Linked DNA regions of Homo sapiens. The protein of the gene in region 1 purifies or fractionates together with the protein of each later gene. This does not show direct contact. Each region holds a gene or a part of one and is shown in the gene's direction. Other genes may lie near its edges.

What was found.
Region 2: the proteins of ZCCHC7 (region 1) and CPNE2 purify together in Homo sapiens (affinity purification with mass spectrometry; one large-scale study listed by BioGRID and IntAct). This does not show direct contact.
Region 3: the proteins of ZCCHC7 (region 1) and ZNHIT6 purify together in Homo sapiens (affinity purification with mass spectrometry, with the first as the bait; one large-scale study listed by BioGRID). This does not show direct contact.
Region 4: the proteins of ZCCHC7 (region 1) and ZKSCAN1 purify together in Homo sapiens (affinity purification with mass spectrometry; one large-scale study listed by BioGRID and IntAct). This does not show direct contact.
Region 5: the proteins of ZCCHC7 (region 1) and TENT4A purify together in Homo sapiens (affinity purification with western blotting; one study listed by BioGRID). This does not show direct contact.

Annotation. Positions count from the first base shown.
Region 1 is NC_000009.12:37,123,497-37,127,368, forward strand, and holds part of ZCCHC7 (zinc finger CCHC domain-containing protein 7), read left to right. Parts: intron 1-2,815; 5' UTR 2,816-2,836; coding exon 2,837-3,446; intron 3,447-3,872.
Region 2 is NC_000016.10:57,095,583-57,099,454, forward strand, and holds part of CPNE2 (copine-2), read left to right. Parts: intron 1-3,872.
Region 3 is NC_000001.11:85,652,689-85,656,560, reverse strand, and holds part of ZNHIT6 (box C/D snoRNA protein 1), read left to right. Parts: intron 1-2,462; coding exon 2,463-2,503; 3' UTR 2,504-3,872. UniProt on the Homo sapiens protein: Required for box C/D snoRNAs accumulation involved in snoRNA processing, snoRNA transport to the nucleolus and ribosome biogenesis.
Region 4 is NC_000007.14:100,029,034-100,032,905, forward strand, and holds part of ZKSCAN1 (zinc finger protein with KRAB and SCAN domains 1), read left to right. Parts: intron 1-827; coding exon 828-919; intron 920-1,215; coding exon 1,216-1,342; coding exon of another isoform or gene 1,343-1,434; exon of another isoform or gene 1,435-1,817; coding exon of another isoform or gene 1,818-1,822; exon of another isoform or gene 1,823-2,165; intron 2,166-3,872. UniProt on the Homo sapiens protein: May be involved in transcriptional regulation.
Region 5 is NC_000005.10:6,737,175-6,741,046, forward strand, and holds part of TENT4A (terminal nucleotidyltransferase 4A), read left to right. Parts: exon of another isoform or gene 1-265; intron 266-335; coding exon 336-459; intron 460-1,508; coding exon 1,509-1,555; intron 1,556-2,557; coding exon 2,558-2,678; intron 2,679-3,872. UniProt on the Homo sapiens protein: Terminal nucleotidyltransferase that catalyzes preferentially the transfer of ATP and GTP on RNA 3' poly(A) tail creating a heterogeneous 3' poly(A) tail leading to mRNAs stabilization by protecting mRNAs from active deadenylation.

The DNA of each region.
Region 1 (3,872 bases):
TTTGACCCAAGGAAGTCAGTTTTTATTATGGTTCTGTAGTTTATTTTTGGCATACATTCACAGGTGTGCCTATGGCTCTATTCTTAATCCCTTTCCTTTGGGATGGCTGCAAGAGTAGTACAAACTTGTAACTTTGTAATTTGGCTTTTTAATTTTTTCTGTGCTGCACTGGAATTATGTTTTGTCTTAAGTCCACACTGGATCCTCAGGATGGATCCAGTGAGGATTTTGAAAGAAGCATAATTCCTTTGACTTCTTTTAGAATTAATTTACCTATTAAATAAAAAGGAAAGGATTCATCTTTTATTCGAATTCCTCTGAGGCTAACAATTCAATATAAACTGATGAATGCTGTGAGCATTATTCAGACAATCACATTCAATTTGTGTGACAGTAACAGCATAGCCACCTGAAGGACAGTGCAACAAGGGCACAGGTATATGATACCCTTTAGAAGAAAAGCATTACAGGTGGGTTTATTTGTTTCTGGAAAACAAACAACTCCAGTAGGAATGTAGTACATTTTTGGCTCTTGTCCATTTGGTTTTTGGGATTAAGGTGGTTCTATTACCAGAACTACCACCACAACACCCTGGTATTTTTGGGCAGAAATTTGGGACACTAAGAAAACAACTATTTTTTATTTTATGTGTATAGCTGTTAGTGGAAGAAAGAATAAATAGGCATCATTATTGCTCTTTAGGCTGTCCCTGATTTTGGACACACACTTATTTTTTCAGGGCTCTCATTTTAATCAGTAGTCCATCAGTACCTAATGGAAACATCTACTGTGTAGAGTTTTGGTTGCTGATGCTAGAATTTAAGACTTTGGAGTAGTCGAAAGACAACAGAGAAATTCATCTCATAATTTTTGTATTTTAAGCACATACTAGATTTATCAGGGCTGAAGAACAAATGCCCGATGGTGTAGTTCATTTATTCATTTATGAATTCAGCAAACGTTTGTAGCTGACCCCGAAAATACCAGTTACCCTGTTTGGCTTTGGTGATTCATTGTTTAGCAGAGTGCATATAGTTCCTGCCCTCCTGGGATTTGTGATCTGCGTTTCTTGGAAATTTATATTGAATAAGTAATTATAAATGTGATGAGTGTTTTGACATGTAAAGTACTTATGGAAGCCCATAAAAGGGGCTCTTAATTTAGCCTGGTTGCAAGTGATTTTGAGCTGAGTTTAAAAGATGAAGGCTGAGGAGGATTTAATATGCTCACAGTAGAAAGTAAAGTGTTTCACTTTACACATTTATTCCCAAAGCTGGGAGTTTTGTCTCAATATTGGGTCATTATTAAGTTTGTATTTATACATTATAAATATACATTGTAAAAATATACATTTTTGTAACTAGTACAGAGTTTTTAGACAGTCTGCTCTGTTGCCCAGGGTGAAGTGCAGTGGCATGATCTCGACTCACTGCAGCCTGTGCCTCCCAGGTTCAAGCTATTCTTGTGCCTCCACCTCCTGAGTAGCTGGGATTATAGGCGCACACCACCACACCCAGCTGATTTCTTTATTTTTAGCAGATATGTAGTTTCACCATCTTGGCTAGGCTGGTCTCGAACTCCTGACTCAAGTGATCCACCCGCCTTGGCCTCCCAAAGTCCTGGGATTACAGGCGTGAGCCACTGCACTGGCCCACCCTTGTTTTATTTTTGAGTTGGGTTCTTGCTTTGTCACCCAGGCTGGAGTACAATGGTATGAGCATAGCTCACTGTAACTTTGAACTCCTGAGCTCAAGCGGTTCTCCCACCTCAACCTCCTGAGTAGTAGCTGGGACTACAGGTTTGCACTGCCATGCCTGGCTAAGTTTTTAGTTTTAATTTTTATGGAGATGGGGTCTTACTGTGTTGCCCAGGCTGTTCTCAAACTTCTAACCTCAACGTGATCCTCCTGCCTTGGCCTCCCAAAGTGTTGGGATTACAGGCATGAGCCACTGCCAGCTCAGGCATTTTTATTTATTCTTTTGGCCAATGATCAGAGGGCCGTGCGATTAATTTGTTAATTGAGAATATACATTTACACCCAAACAGTAAACAAAATTGTTTCCTGTTATAGATTTTAGTCATAATTGAAGTAATATTCCTGTATATGCTTGAAAATATGAGCTATAGAACCAGAACCAAGGAAAAGATGAAGAATGGATAGGATAGTGAGAGCTGCTTTAAGTTTTGTTTTAACATTTTGGAAAGCAAGGGTTTTGTATCCTGCGGTAGATCTCAATTTGTTTTTCGTTTACAATATACCTGTGAAATCTTACATATCATGTGCTGCATAATAGCATTTTGGTTAAAGACAGACAGTGTGACTGTGGTCCCATAGGATTTGTATACGTTTTTGCTATATCTTTTGTATGTTTAGATACCCAAATACCATTGTGTTACAGTTACTTACAGTATTTGGCACCGTTACATGCTGTATTGGTTTGTATCCTAGGAGCAATAGACCATACCATGTAGCCTAGTTGTGTAGTTGACTACACCATCTAGTTTGTGAAAATCATCCTATGAAGTTTGCACGATGAAATCACAGAACAAAGCATTTCTTAGAGTGTTGACTGTGTTTCCATCAATAACTATAACTCAATTTGTCAGTAGTAATTCTCGTTGGGGAGTGGTGGGACTTACAGGAGTGGGTCCTAACAGGACTTAGAAATCCTTGGAAAAAAAGGTATTTTAATATGTCTGAGAATAGTGATGGCCTTCATATTAGCAGTTGTCACTGACAGGTGATATTGTTACTTAAACTGGCATGATCTGAACTTTTAAAGTATATTCTGTGTACAACTTTCTCTTTTGCAGCTTCAAGGTTACTGACTTTTTATGATGTTTGGTGGCTATGAGACTATAGAAGCATACGAAGATGATCTTTATCGAGATGAGTCATCTAGTGAACTGAGTGTTGATAGTGAGGTGGAATTTCAACTCTATAGCCAAATTCATTATGCCCAAGATCTTGATGATGTCATCAGGGAGGAAGAGCATGAAGAAAAGAACTCTGGGAATTCGGAATCTTCGAGTAGTAAACCAAATCAGAAGAAGCTAATCGTCCTTTCAGATAGTGAGGTCATCCAGCTGTCAGATGGGTCAGAGGTCATCACTTTGTCTGATGAAGACAGTATTTATAGATGTAAAGGAAAGAATGTTAGAGTTCAAGCACAAGAAAATGCCCATGGTCTTTCTTCTTCTCTTCAATCTAATGAGCTGGTTGATAAGAAATGCAAGAGTGATATTGAGAAGCCTAAATCTGAAGAGAGATCAGGTGTAATCCGAGAGGTCATGATTATAGAGGTCAGTTCAAGTGAAGAGGAAGAGAGCACCATTTCAGAAGGTGATAATGTGGAAAGCTGGATGCTACTGGGATGTGAAGTAGATGATAAAGATGATGATATCCTTCTCAACCTTGTGGGATGTGAAAACTCTGTTACTGAAGGTTAGTATCATATTGGCCATTTTGAAAGTAGTATCATCTTTCATAAGGAGGACTGCTTTTCCTAGAGAAAAGACCAATAGGGTCTACTCCGTTTAATTCCTCACTTTTTGGTCTTGTTTTTTGGTTTGTTTCTCATGCGACTCTCTTACCAGTGGCTACTCTAATGGTGGTTTGTCTGAACGTCAGAAAGAGTATGTCAGAATACCAAAGACACTCTGCTTCTGCTGTAAGCAGATTCATAGCTGCTTCTTCCTGTTTGGCTAGAGCCAGTTCTGGACCTGAAATCTTACTTCCCCCCTCTCTCTCTGCTTGGTACCACAGGTGAGTACTCCATCCACCTCTGGCATTAGCCCTGTGCACTCATTCAGCCAACTCTGTTGGGACTGTCTCTTCCTATGGGATTTGCTTACCCAGGAGTTAGATGGC
Region 2 (3,872 bases), on another chromosome or scaffold:
GTGCCTTAGCCTCCCAAGTAACTGGGATCACAGGTGCACACCTAGCTAATTTTTGTATTTCTAGTAGAGACGGGGTTTTGCTATGTTGGTTAGGCTGGCCTTGAACTCCTGGCCTCAGGTGATCCACCCACCTCGGTCTCCCAAAGTGCTGGGATTATAGGCATGAGCCACTGTGCCCGACCATGGAACATTTCTTACTTATCTGGCCACACTTGCTCTGAGGTCTGCAATGAGACTGACTAGTGAGATTGTGTCACCATCCCTCCTCACTGCTGCATCTCCTGGTTGTATTTTTCTTGGGGCATTTGCCACTCTTTAAAACCATCTTCTTTACTCATTGGTGCACCAGCTTATCTGCCTCCCTCCCCAAAGGGTGTCAGATCCACAAAAAGGCAAGAGCAAACAGTGTCTGTCTTGTTTAGGGCCATGTCCCAGCACTTAGAACAGTGCCTGGCACATTGTAGGTGCTCAGTAAATCCTTGTGTGAGGAATGACTGCACCTGCCCCTCTTTGCAGCCTCCTGTTAAATGAGTCTGTGATGTTGAGTGATGGATCCTGGGAGAATTACGAGCTTGCCCTCTTGAGTCTCTGGAGGGATCTCTGGCTTACCATACTGAGTGCTGGAAGGAGCATGGCCTTGCTGACAGCTGGATTTCAAACTTGTAGCCTACAGAACTGTGAGAGAATCTAAGCCATCCAGTGTGTGGTGCTCAACTAGCCCATGGCCAACCAGAGTTTGAAACCCAGTAGCTCAGCTCCCAGCATTCACTGCACTCTTACAATACACTTTTCTCAGGTTGGGCATGTCTCTGAAAGACTGATGGGAGAGCCGGGCGTGGTGGCTCACACCTGTAATCCCAGTACTGAGGGAGGCCAAGATAGTCAGACCACTTGAGCCCAGGAGTTCAAGACCAGCCTGGGCAACATGGCAAAAACCCGTCTTTACCAAAATAAAAAATAAACAAAATTAGCTGGGTGTTGTGGTGCATGCCTGTAGTCCCAACTACTTGGGAGACTGAGGTGGGAGGATTGCTTGAGCCCAGGAGGTCGAGGCTGCAGTGAGCCATGATTGTGCCACTGTACTCCAACCTCGGTGAAACAGTGAGACCATGTCTCAAAAAAAAAAAAAAAAAAAGACTTGGGGTCCAACCAAAGGAAAGAGGGATTGCAGGAGTTGTCTGCTGGGAGTTGGGCATATTCCCTCCTGTGTTTTAGAGAGGGGACAGCCAGGGCACATCAGGCAGGCCAGATATCCTCAGCTCCTGATAAGACACAAAAGCCTGCAGGGATACAGTAGAGTTGTAGGGAGAATGGGCTTCTGAACCACACTAGGCATGTCCACACCACAGGGCCTTTACACATGCTGGGGAACAGGTAGAGGAAACAGCGCATGCAAAGGCCCTGTGGTGGGGACATGCCTAGCTTGGTTCAGGAGCCCATTCATTCATTCATTCAAAAATATTCACTGAGTACCTGCTGGGCACCAGCTATGGCTGGGATACAGCCATGAACGAGAGAGACCAATGCCTTGCTCTCCTGGGGCTCCTGGTCTATTAACATCCCAGCTCAAATGTGGCCTCCTCCACACTGCCCTATCACAATCACTTCACCCTGCTTTATTCTCTTTATGACATTTTCCACTCTCTGAGATTTCCTGCCCTTGTCATTTGCTCACCTCTCTGTTCCCCCAACTCCATCCCGAACTCCTATGCCCAGAGCCTGAGTGTGTCTTGATCATGGTTGCCCCTCCAGCACACAGCAAAGTCCCTGGTCCAGAGGAACTGCTTAAGAAACATCTGTTGAACAACCAAATGGATGGCTGCATGGTGAGGGAAGCTCTCCTGGAAGGTGGAGACCCAAAGTCCCAAGTGAAAGAGGGATTACATCTGTGCACAACCCTCTTCAGTGTACCAGCTTTTCACTGCTGCCTTAAGAACATCATGAAGAAAGTAGTGGGGACAGCTCTAGTTAGCAGCAGCTCCATTTCCTGTATGAAGAAACTGAGGCTAGAGAGGTTAGGACACATGGCCCAGGTTGCATAGGGAATGGGTGACTTTCTCCAGCACACCTCAGTCCCTTGGGTGGGCAGGCAGTGGCAGCAGGTGACGTCCCACCCAGGGGACCTCACATCCTCCACCTCCCCAGCCCCCAGTCTTTCAGTCCTAGGCAAATCCACCTTCTCTCAGACGTACAACTTTCCCCATTCCCTCCTCCATGGGAGTCCCCTGCCCTCTGAGCCTGGCCAGATCCACTCCCAAGGTCCCCTAAGTACTCAGAGTCTCCGGAGAGCCACAGCACTCCGTGCCTATCCCCATGTGGAGCTTCCTGGGAGGCCGGAGGGGAAGGAGCTGAGGCCCAGGAGGGAGGAGTGGCAGGAGAGGACAAAACCCAGTCCCTAGACTCACAGGAAGTACAGTGGAGGCTGCCTCTCAGCCTGCTAGGTCAGCCCCTATAAGTGACACAAACCTTCCAGTGCAGGATGAGCTGAACCTGGGGCCTGGGAGGGTGGGGGTGGGGGTGTCCCAAGGGAAGCCACCTCCCCTAAGAGCCAGAGCTTAGTGATTAAGCGGGCACTACAGAGAATGACCTCCCTCTGAATGTGGTCTGGTGGAAGCTGGGGGTCCCCAGGGGGGCCTCAGGGCCAACCCCTGCTGCAGCCTCCTCGCCATGCTGTCTGCATCTGTATTTATCCCCGTAATGGCCTGGCTGCCTGTTGGAGTGTGGTGTCTTTGGAGCACAGCAGCCGGTGCCGTAGCCTCGGTGCAGAAATGATTTGTGTCAAGGTGCCGCCCCCACCTGGTCAGGAGTGCCAGCCTGCTCCCCGGGGGCTGCCTGTCGCCTGGCAGGAGCTGGTGCAGCAATGGGCATGCGGCAAGGGCCCCAGAGAATAAGGCTTGTGGCTGGACCCTGCCCACCAGAACCAGGATGCAGGATGTTGGGGCAGCCAGGCTGTGGCCAGGGTTCCTGTGTGGCTGGAAAGTGGGGCCAGATAAACTCTAAAGTCTTTTAGCTCTGAGACTCAAAGAACTCATGACTCTGAAATCCCAGAATTCCCAAATTCTGGAATTCTGTGAACCTCTAGTCCCGGGCCTCTACAATTCCAAGATGTTATGGTTCCTCTTCCTCTCACCTTTTCACTCTTCCTCATTTTCAACAAACTTGTGTCGAGCTTCCATTCTGTGCCTCTGGGTGTTGGGAGCAACGAAATGGAAACAGGGTTTGGTTCCATCTTTAAGCTCCAGTGAGGGCGACGCTTCTAAGCCAATGGTTACAGTATGCTGATATTGTAAGTGATTCCCTCTCAAGGACCAGGGAAATAGGAAGGGCTTTGTAGAGGAGTCCCTGGATTATTGGTTTTGGTGTTTTTTGTTTTTTGTTTTACCACATTGAAGTGTAACATGAAATAGAGCAGACATTCTACATGGACCAGTCAATGACTGTTCACAAACCAACATATCTGGGTCACCAGAACCCAGATCAGAAACAGACACGACCAGCACCAAAGCCCCCGGTGTCCCCTTCTTGTCAGTAACACCCGTCCACGTGTCCTACTGCTATCCTGACTTCCAGCAGCATAGATTTGTTTTGTCCATGTTTAAGGGCACCTAAGTGAAATCATATAGGATGACATACTCCTTTCTCTCTGGCCCCCTTCACACAGCACGTGTGAGACCCATCCGTGTTATTGCTACCTGTGTTCTTCCTTCAAGTTGGCTGTATGTGGTCTGCTGTGTGTTCATTCACCAGTTATGTCTCCCTTCTTCCAATCATGGGGGTTTGGGTGGGGAGTTCCAGTTGGGATTATTTGGATTAGCACTGCCATGAACATTCCTGTGTGTATCTTTGGGTGAACATACGTGAGTGTTTTCGTT
Region 3 (3,872 bases), on another chromosome or scaffold:
TTTGGGAAAAGTTGTTTAGTAATGTAGGTTAGTAGCTAGGGCAAACATCTTCTGTATAAATAAACAGCACACACAGCTCTCCTTTCACCTTGTTTAGGAATGTACATTCAAGTAAGGCTTCCTGTAATGAAGCAATAAGAAAAGACTACTTTACTAGCGTACTGGGAGCCTTATTGAGTAAAATTTGCTATTTTTCTGGTGGATATATGATGTTTGACTTATTTACAGGAACACAAATGACTCATGCTTTTAGTACAGAGGATTATTTAGAACTGTGTTAGCAAAGAACTAAAAGTATCTGACAGGATTTTAAAACCATACCAGTTTTGTCACATCGTAAGTACACACACCTTAAAAGTAATGCCCAGGTCTTCCTGTACATGCATTTCTTTCTGTAAGTACTTCAAGGTGTCTGTTTCTTTATACATTCTCACAGCATCAGATATTTTGCAGGGTGATACCTTGATGAGGGAAGGGGATTATGTAAGAAGAGGGCATTTTCTTTGGAAAGCCTTGAAATTCCTTCCCTCTCTGGAGGTAAAAAAGTTGGATTTTGATCCTGAGTTTATAGTACAAGTTGTCTCTTTCCTAATTTGGGGGTACATGTGTTTCTGGTCTGGGATTCAGTAGTTCCCACACCTGATGGTTGTTCTAATATTTGTTATGATTGTAGATTGCCATAATTATTTGAGTCTGCCTATATTAATCAGCAGTAGCCAAGATTTTGTTTGTTTGTTGCTTTTCAGTAATGGAAAAGGTTAACTGGAAAAGATAGAGCTATTTAGATACTCCACTAGATTGGAGATGCTAAGTGCTGATTACCTACCTTATATCAGTCCAGTGGGAAGTGCTCAGAATGGTGTAACTTGCTTCACAGGCTGTTATTAGACTAGCAGATTTAGATGAGGGAGAAAAGCATGCTGCATTTCAATCTAAGGAAAAAAGAATGGAACCCTATTCAAAGAAGAAAACTGGGCACCTTCAATAGGCAAAGAAAGGGGAAAATGTCCCATACTGCTAAAAATCTTTATTAATTTAGAAATGTCAGCAAAATAAACTTTTTGATGTTCTAGTGTAACTCAAGATTAGAAAATGCCTCAGCCTTTAGAGAAGGAATCCAACCCAAAATTGATTACTGGAATTAGTGAAAATACCTGGCATAGCAGCTACTCATATATCAGTCTCTTATTGGGCCAGTAAATCTTTCATCCATTCTCCCTCGCTCACCTTTCCTCATTCTTCCTTACTTCTCTTTTCTTTCTTTTCCTTTTGCAGGGAGAGAGAGGAGGATTTTTGGCACTGGAACACGCATGTAAAACTTATTATACAATAGATGCTAAAATAGAGTTTACCTGAAGTACAGAGACAGCCAGAGAAGGAAAAAAACTTTTAATATCATGGAGGCACTGGATGGACTGCTAAAGTTCATAAAATTTCACAAAGATTGGGATGATATCTTGGATGGAACTTATTTCAGTGCCTTACTCTTAGAAAGGGCTCAGTAAACACCATTGTGGTTGCTGGTACAATCTGAAGTCTAGGTACAACAGCAAACCCCAGGGAACTTGTCAGTTGGAATATGAGGCAGTTCCAGGTGTGTGCTTCTAGCATCAGCTTTTATAAGCTGTGGTCCCTTGAGCATTTGCTCTGCCTCTCTGAGCTTTATTTTTCTTATCTACTCAGTGGAGATAACAGCTATAAGCCTCAAAATAACCTATATTTTAGCATGACAATTTTTAAAGAGTTACTACCTATTATTTCCTTTTAGCTTCACAAGACCATGAAATAGAACACTTACTCCGGTTCCCATTTTGCAGATTTAGGGAAAAAACACTAAAAGGCAGAATGATTTGCAGTTACATTGATTCAGCAAACATACTCTAAATTGTGAGGATAGATACAGAGAAGAAAGGTCGAGTTTCTGTCCTCCAGGAACTCTCAGTTTAGTGAGTGAGTCATAGTTAGTCTTGCTTGCTCTAAGCAAGACAGGGGTGTCAGAGGAGCTCCATTTCTATTCTTCTTTCCTGTGAAAGGAAGGAGATGGCGATTAGCTAGTCTTCTGTCACTCCACATTCACTCAACATATACTGACCCTCAATTAAGTTTAAAAAAAAATCATGGAAAAAATTTATTCTAACCACAAGTGGCTGGCCAGGATAATAGTGATCTATTCAGTGGCATGAATATGGATCATAACCACATTGTGAAGTGACCATTCCTAAGTCTTCCACAGAGTCAGGAAGGATGTTACCTCACAAAATATAATTGCCACTTTCAGACATCATTTCTCTATTTATTGTGGCCAGAATTGTATATCCTAGCTGCCTGGGACATGACGCGGTTTGTGTGTCCCTGTGAGCAGTGCTTTTGCTGTACATCAGAAGGAGGGAGAGAAGAGGGACAGAGCAACCTAAACAGAAAAATATAAACACTTGACTGTATGTTTACTTATTTTTTTCTAGTGAAGAGTGAATCTACCAAGAACGTTGGCAATGAAAATTGAGCATTTTTTCTGGAAGAAGAAAGTGAAAACTTCCAGACAACTGCAGCAGACTCTGCATTGATGGGCTGTTGGCTGATTGGGGTATTGTCAATGGGTGATTGGAATTTTTTCTTTGTATGAAAAATAAGCTTAACTCTTTTAAAAAATGTATTTTATAACCTCTTGAATTAATTGACTTGTAAGACCCATTTATTCATATTAAGAACTCTCCTTTGCACTTGATCAGCATAGTACTTATTAGGCCCTGGCTTTTTAATATGCTTAATTGCTTAATTCCATAAACTGAAAACTTTTTTTTTCTTTTTTCTTTCTTTTTTTGAGATGGGGTCTTGGAGTGCAAGTGGTATGAGCATAGCTTCCTCAAATTCCTGGGCTCGAATGGTCCTCTCACTGCAGCCTCCCAACAGGCTGGTACCACCACACTCAGCTAAGTTTTTTGTTGTTGTTTTTTTTTGGTAGAGACAGGGTTGCGCTCTTTCGCCCAGGCTGGTCTCAAATTTGTGGCCTCAAGCAATCCTTCCACCTCAGACTCCAAAGCATTGGGATTACAGGCATCAGCCACCACACCTGGCCTTGAACATTTTTTATTTGTTAATTTCATGCGTGACGAAACCCAAGGATCACCCATGTCAACCACAAAGTTGGCATTCCCTTTAGTAGAACCTCACTAAACGGAAAGGCTGTACAACGCACCGTCTAGCCACAGGAGAACTAATCTTCTATCAGTTGCCCTTTCTTCTTTGGAGTTTTTATGTAACTTACCCTTGTGAGACAAGTTTTCTACTTGAGAAACTCCTAGTACAATGTCTTATACTAGAAGCCTGGATAAATACTATTAACTACTGTTTCTTATATTCACTTCAGAAAATCAGTGGCTCCACATTGTTTGAGCCATTAGTGATAACAAATTTGGATCTACTTACTCAAGTCTTATGAATTCTGTGCCTTTCATCACATTCCTAGCCCACTCTCATCATTACTGCAGAAGGGTGTTGTGATGACCAGTTTTATACTGTGTTTTGATATGTCTAGCAATAACTTAAAGAAAAAAAAACCTGGGAAATCTTCAACATGTTATTGGAACATATATGTATGTATTAATGTATATACATGGCTTAACTTATACGTTATGGCAGCTCTGTATACAGTTTGATCTCATGTACTGAAAAAAAATTCTTAATTTTATTGGAGTTTATACCACTGTGAAACTGCAATATGACTGTAAGAGAGTAAAAAGATTGTTACATCTATATTGTATGTGTGTACTTAATGGTTAAAAAGCAATGATAAAACTGGACATTAATGAAATTGATTTTTAGTTACAGTTGGAATAAGTTTTTTACCAAAAAGAAACCAGAGACGTTAGTTA
Region 4 (3,872 bases), on another chromosome or scaffold:
CATGCCTGTAATCCCAGCTACTCTGGAGGCTGAGGCAGGAGAATCACTTGAACCCGGGAGCCGAAAGTTGCGATGAGCTAAGATCGCACCATTGCACTCCAGCCTGGGCAACAAGAGCAAAACTCTGTCTCAAAAAAAAAAAAAAAAAAAAAAAAACTTACCCAGAGCTAAGGAGACCTCCTTACTTCCCTGCCTTTCTGGATATTGCTACTAAAGTGTTTTTTTTGTTGTTGTTTTTCTGGATTTCATTGAGACGGGGTCTCACTCTATCATCCAGGCTGGAGTGCGTGATCATAGCTCACTGCAGCCTCGACCCCTTGAGCTCAAGCAATCCTCCCGCCTCACCTGCCACTAAAGATTTTAAAGCTGTGTTGTGTTTTCCACAAGTGTAGGCATAAATGGGATTCTCATATCCTGGTATCGTTCCTTGGACTGGAGGAAATTAGGAGCCAGACTTGAGCTATGGGCTGAAGGTACCCACTTTTATAGCTGAGAATAGGAACCTGGGTCCCCATCCTGGCTCTGCCACTGGGAATGTGACATTAGGGAAGTCATTTGCAGTCTCAGGGACTCAAGTTTCCCCTTCTTTAAAATAAAAGGGTTGGACCAGGTGATTAGGACCCTTTTATGACTCCTGCTCAAGAGTAGAGGTCTTGGGAAAACTGAGGCCCTGTGTTCTCTCGTTTGTGTTGTCTGGAATTCTGTATTTGGGACCTAAACACTGAACAGTGAACATGCTGGTGCAGGAAGGAACATGCCCCGAGCCCTTCTTTGAGCAAGGCTCAGAGCGGAGCTGATTTACTCACAGACCCTTTCTCCTCCCCCAGCTCTTCCTGCTGCCCACATTCCTGCACCCCCTCATGAGGGTAGTCCCAGAGACCAGGCGATGGCATCTGCACTATTCACAGCGGATTCCCAGGTGAGCTGTGGCCCCTCTGCTCTCCTGAGTCCTCAGTGTCTGCCTCTGTTCCTGAGCTCTCTTCATTATCTCCACAGGCCACTCTGGATGCCCCTGCTCTCAAAGAAGCCCCAACCCTGTCCTCTCCTTTTAGCATCTTTCTACCACAAACTCCCCTCCACCCCCAGGTTCTGGCCACCCTTTTCTTCCCAGCGTCCTGTAGCTTTGCAGCCACCTCTCTTCCTGACTCCAGGTTTGAGCAATGGGATTGTCCCTGAGTTTGGGGGGAAATGACTGTTTGTCTCGTGTTATTTTAGGCAATGGTGAAGATCGAGGACATGGCTGTGTCCCTCATTCTGGAGGAATGGGGATGTCAGAATCTGGCTCGGAGGAATCTCAGTAGGGACAACAGGCAGGAGAATTATGGGAGCGCATTTCCCCAGGGTAAGACGGATGCAGGCTTACTGTCTGATAAGATGGTTTTGTCTCTCTGTGTGTTAGCTGTGGGATCTCTGATGTGTTCAATTGAGTGTTGAGGAGTTAGAGACTACCTATCCCCTTTTGTAGACCAGATGGAAAGTGAGAATGTTTGTGTTCATTTAACTCCAGAAGCATGGTACTGTGACCCTGATTCCAGGTGGGTTTTTTATTGCTAAGTAGTTTTTGCTCTTTAAAATCAGAAATAATTGAGTTCCAAGTCCTCACCTCTTCAGCCACTCAGTTGCCTGGGAGGCAGTTCTGCTCCGTTCCCATGGATTACAATTTAGGTGCCTCTGTCGGGGGAATATCTTTCCTAGCAGAGATGACCAGGCGAACTGATCATCCGTCTAATCCCAACCCATTGTCCCGGTACCACATTCCCGAAACTACCAAGCATCCTTCTGTTGGCTTTCTGTCTTCTTCCATCCTGTGTGATTAGTGTGATTCCAATACACTGCTTTGTGTAATTCCACGAACTTGCACCTGGACTGTCCTTGTGATGAGGATTCCCAGCTTCCAAACTTAATGGTGATTTTCTATGAAGAGCTCTGGGTCCTGGATGTGTAGTAAGAACGAGGAAGTTCAAGAGGCATCAGCCAGATAAGACAAGGTGACACTGTTGGCAGACATTTCCATTTGTCTCTGCTGGATCTTAACCCCTCAGGACAGTGCTGCAAAGAAGCCCTCACGTGAGTACAGCAATAGGGAGGTCCACAGCAAGCTTCTACCTGGAGAGGGCAAAGGGAGTGTGAATAAAGCGTGAACATGAAGGATGTTACTAATGAAACATCAAGTTCTATTTTTGATCAGGCATAAATGGGGCTTATAATTTCTCTTGGTACTTGCTCTTTGTACTAGATGATTTTTTTTTTTTTTTTTTTTTTTTGAGACAGGGTCTTGCTGTTTCCCAGGCTGGCATGCAGTGCTGCGATCACAGCTCACTGCAGCCTCGACCTCTCAGGCTCAAGCAATCCTCCCACCTCAGCCTCCCAAGTAGCTGGGACTACAGGCATGCATCACCATGCCCAGCTAATTTTTACATGTTCTGTAGAGAAGAGGTTTCGCCATGTTGCCTAGGCTGGTCTCAAAACCCTTGGGCTAAAGTGATCCACCTGTCTCCACTTCCTGGAGTTCTGGGATTTAACAGGAGTGAGCCACTGCACCTGGTCTCCAGCATTGTTTTCTGTTTCTTTTTTGTTCTGAGTTATTCTGTGTCAGTCAGTGAAGGGTTTAATTATTTTTACTAATGTCGTAACCACTTTTTTCCACCTACTCCTCTGTTACTTGAGCACTGTCAGCTCTGTGTTCCTCTCCTTGTTGGATAGAAACTATTTCCTGTGTCTGAAGATTCCTGTAGCCTGCCAGGTTCAAAACAAGTTCCTTGACCAGGCACAATGGCTCACACCTGTAATCCCAACACTCGAGGAGGCTGTGGCAAGAGGATCGCTTGAAGCCAGGAGTTCAGGACCAGCATGGGCAATATAGCAAGACCACTGTCTCTACAAAAAAATTTAAAAATTAGCCAGGCGGGGTGGTGCAGGCCTATAGTCCCAGCTACTTGGGAGGCTGAGGCAGGAGGATCACTTGAGCCCAGGAGATCGAGGCTGCAGTGAGCTGTGCTCATGCCACTGTACTCCAGCCTGGCTGACAGAACAAGACCCTGTCTCAAAAACAAAAACAAAACAAAGTTTCTTGTTTGTTAATCATCAGCTTGTTGATAGAAAACTCACAGAATTGGAGAAATATTTACTATTCCTTTCTTTCTGCTAATACCACTAATCATTTTCTATGAAAGACCTGTTCTTTTTTTGAACTTATGAATAATGTTAGAAATGGAACATGATGTTTTAAATGTATACATAAACCTTCCAATTAATTATCAGGTGATCCAGTAGTAGACCTGTGACCTCTGAAGGCTCCTGCTTCTCATCCCTTCCCTTCTGCTGTGATTTGTTGTCTTCCCTCTGCTCATTCCCCTTGTGTCTGTTTCTTCCATCCTCTCCCCATGCTCCCTCTGTTGTCATTTCCCCTTACTCTCCACTCTTTGCCTGCGCTCTCATTTTCCAAATTTTTGTTGTTCCAAAACTAGGACAACAGATCTTCCTGTTGTCCCAGTTTTTCCCCTTGTTTTTCTCCTATTTTATGTCCAATTAATATTGTGAAGTCAGGCCGGGTGCAGTGGCTCATGCCTGTAATCCCATCACTTTGGGAGGCCAGGGCAGGTGGATCACCTGAGGTCAGGAGTTTGAGAGCAGTCTGGCCAACATGGTGAAACCCCGTGTCTACTAAAAAAATACAAAAGTTACCCGGGCGTAGGCCAGGCGTGGTGGCTCACGCCTGTAATCCCAGCACTTTGGGAGGCCGAGGCGGGTGGATCACGAGGTCAGGAGATCGAGACTATCCTGGCTAACATGGTGAAACCCCGTCTACACTAAAAATACAAAAAATTAGCCGGGCGTGGTGGCGGGCGCCTGTAGTCCCAGCTACTCAGGAG
Region 5 (3,872 bases), on another chromosome or scaffold:
ACATTCATTGGAAAGCTGCTTTCACACTTCCTGGATGGAATTCTCTCATTTTTTCAATATAAAGTCACTGAGATGATTTTTTTGGAGAAGTCTTTAAAGGCCAGTTATACATTTATTGATACTTGGTATTGACAAAGTTCAGTTGTTTAGTGTTGCTAAGTCATACTGTGTAAGTTTGTTGAGCACAGAGTTTTCATTTTATACTTTCAGAGGAGAAATGAAACTGAATTTCGTGGCCAGAAATATGTTTGAGCGTCATCCTGATGTAAGAACAGAACAGAAAATGTGGTGACATTTCATTGTAACTCTAGTATGTTTTCTTTTTTGTCCATTAGACTACATGAGGAAATAATTGACTTTTATAACTTCATGTCCCCTTGTCCTGAAGAAGCAGCTATGAGAAGAGAGGTGGTGAAACGGATCGAAACTGTGGTGAAAGACCTTTGGCCGACGGCTGATGTGAGTATGTTCTTTGGAGTTCTGTGTCGCACGTCACGTGCGAGTAAATTTAAATACCCTGTGATGATGATGTGTCGGCTAGATCCACACAGACCTTTTCTCGTTGGCCCGAGGCAGCAGTTCTCCAAGTGTGCTTTGAGAAGGCCTCCGTTGCCTGGAATGCATGGCCCCCGGCGCACCTGCACCTGCTGTCTTAGACACCTGCGGTGGCCGCACATCTTCGTGATGCTGGCGCGCACTCAAGTGCGAAGACCATCGGCTGAGGGATTTGTTGGGTTTTTTTTTTTTTTTTTTGGAAGGGGGAGAATGGTGTGATTGTTTCTCTTAAGTTCACCTTAAAATTTAGAAATTTCACCCTGTCACCCACCCCTGCTTCCCCACCACCACACATAGTAGCATATAATGTGCTCATTTTTGTAAAACTTGGAAGTGTTCCCTCATCACACACCACTCTTGCAGTGAAGGAACAAGTGTTTTTTGACATGTGGAGTGGGGCCTTCTGGAATGCTTGGTGCAGGTGGCGTGAAGCCTGCCCCTGGCCGGCTCTATTCAGCAGCCTTCCCTACTGCTGACTGGGCTCAGTGGACCAGCAGGGCTGGCCGTGCCCCAGCTGTGAGGGGCATGTGTGCTCTTGGTGGGCAAGGGCAACCCAGTTTTCTGCGCCTCTTTTAAAATGATACAGATTTTTGGCTTTAAACTTCAGAGTCCTAGGACAAAGCCCTGCCCCAGTGCCTTAGCTGTGGGTTTAAGAAGAGGTTGAAGGGTTTGAAGCTAGCTCTGAAAAGTCCTCAGCTTTGAAGGGTTATAGGGTGAGGACAAAACTTGTTTCACCTCTTAATTTTGAGTTTTTAAACATTCCTTTTTTGGGCATGTCTTTAACTTAAAGGGAATTTTCTGGTTGATTGTTATACGGTCCCCTCCATCAGTTTCCAAGGTAGTTTTATTTTTTACCCAAGGGTATAGTGAGGGCTTTCTTTTAGTAAGAAATAATGGTAGTGTGACTGCTTGGTTTGTGGTATACATTTTAAGGCAACCACTCTTTCTTTCAGGTACAGATATTTGGCAGCTTTAGTACAGGTCTTTATCTTCCAACTAGGTGAGTACCAGACTGCATGGCATGGGCTAGTGGGGGGCTGGGATGGTGTCTATGCAATATTAAGGGCTACAAATAGATTCTTTGTAATTGAGTCTAAGGCGAGAAATGCCAGCTAAAGGAAAAGACTGTGGTTACAGAGGGAAATTGGCAGAAAGATTTAATTTAGTGTTATGATGAATTCATTGCTTTGCATTTTTCCTCTCACACTTAATTTGTTGGGGTGCAAAAATGCTTCATGCTGGAAATATGAAGAAGACAGGTGGGAGGACTGTGGGAAGTAAACGCAATAGAAGACATTCTGCTGATATTTTAGGACATGTGTTTGAAAAATTGATCTTATGTTTTGATGAAGATTCAAGCAAAATTCTCTTTAAATAGTATTTTCTAAGTATTTTTACCTGATAGGAAAATGTCAAACAAGTTTGCATTCTAAAATACAAACTAGTATTTTCTCATTAAGGATTCTTGATAGCCAAATAAATTTCCTGTGCACTGTCTCATTAAAAGCTTACCTTCTATTAACCCACTGCTAGTTAGCATTTGGAGGCCGAAGAGGCTATAATCTCAGGATTTGGGGGTTGACATTAGCAGGGCCAGTGGGTAATTGAACAGGTTTGGGTATCCAGGAATCTCTGGGTCCGCAGGAGTGATCCAGCGTAGGCAGTGCCGGAGTAGGTGCTGGGAGAGCGGGGCCTCAGCCTGGTTTGGGGGCAGGCATTTTCATTTGAATCCCCTCACATACCTAGTGCTGTTGGGAGAATGATTTAACCTTCTTGCTTTCCATCTTATGCTACAAATATGGAAGTCTTCCCTTAAGTTCAGCGAGGACTTGCTGTAGTTCATGAACTGCACTTCACCTCCTTAGGGGCCATAGGCTAGTGGGATTGTGTCTTGGCCTTTGTGGGAGACACAGGCACATGTGCCTTGGTGCTTATCCTCCCCACACGAGTGTGTAGGCTGTGGCGAGGGGAGCAGTGGCTGACGTGCGTTTTCTTCTGTCAGCGACATAGACCTGGTGGTCTTCGGGAAATGGGAGCGTCCTCCTTTACAGCTGCTGGAGCAAGCCCTGCGGAAGCACAACGTGGCTGAGCCGTGTTCCATCAAAGTCCTTGACAAGGCTACGGTGAGTGCCTGGCTTTGGCCCCTCTGACCGGGCAGGAGCCTTGTCACATCCCAGGTGGTCACAGGATACGCCTGCGTCACGAGCTTGTGGTATTTTACACAGTTATTGGCTACAGTTTTGAAGATTAATCTGCTTCTGGTATAGACATGTGTTTTATGTTTTTGTTTCATAGTCGTGATCACCAACTGAGAACATGTTTAGTGACAGTCTGAACTTTTGGGACTTGTGAGCCCATTAAACTGTTCTTGGAATGAAAATATATGATTGTGTCTACTTGTGTTAGGATGAATAGGAAAGGAGAGTCATCTGAAACCGGACACTGACATTCAGGTGCTGCCCATTATGGAGAGTGTGGCTCAATGATTAAACCATGGTTTTTATGATTACCATTTGCTATGTTATGTTAAAGAGGAACAACTTAGCTGTTCCTTTCGTGGTTCCAAAAAATATACATATATGAAAAGCCTTTTATCTTTGGGGGAAGTTTGAAGATGAGACTGTTTCTGGTGTGTACTTGCTAAGGTTTATGTCAGTTCAAGATTATAAGCCCCCCAGGGACTATGAGGTACTTGCCTGTTGTATGACAGTTCTTAGCTCACCTGTGCGACCGGCTAGCATTTCATTTTTAAATTTGTGTGTCAACTTGTGTGTGATTCACATCCTTATAGTGTTTAGCAGAATGTAAGTTAAGGCAGGAGCTTCCTCCTGCCTGTGTGGTGATAGGGGAGGGGGCATTCACATGTTTCTCATTGTCAGGTGCTTTTGATTGAGGCTGGGGGCAAGTTTTAAAACATGATATATGCACTGAAAAGTGCACATGTACCAGGTGCACCTCTTGGTGAGAGTTAACGAAGTGCACATGCTCATGTCACTGTCATGTGGACCAGAGCGAGCAGGCAGCACCAGAGGTTCCCTCCAGGCCCAGGTTCCAGAAGGGGCTGTTGGCTCTTCTCATTAGCACGAGACAAGCCCTGGCCGGCCACTTTCTCAAATGCTTACGGGCCTTATTGCACTTAGCTCTCCCAGCCACTCTCATCAGCAGATGCTGTTGCTGTTCACATTTTACAGGTGAGGAAACTGAGATGCGGAGAGGTGAGGTCATTAGCCCAAGGTGGGTCAGCGGCATAGTCCAGGCCGCTGTTGTCTGCTGCTCCTCTGTGTGTGCCAAGGGGCAGCGGGGAGGTGGGTGGGAAT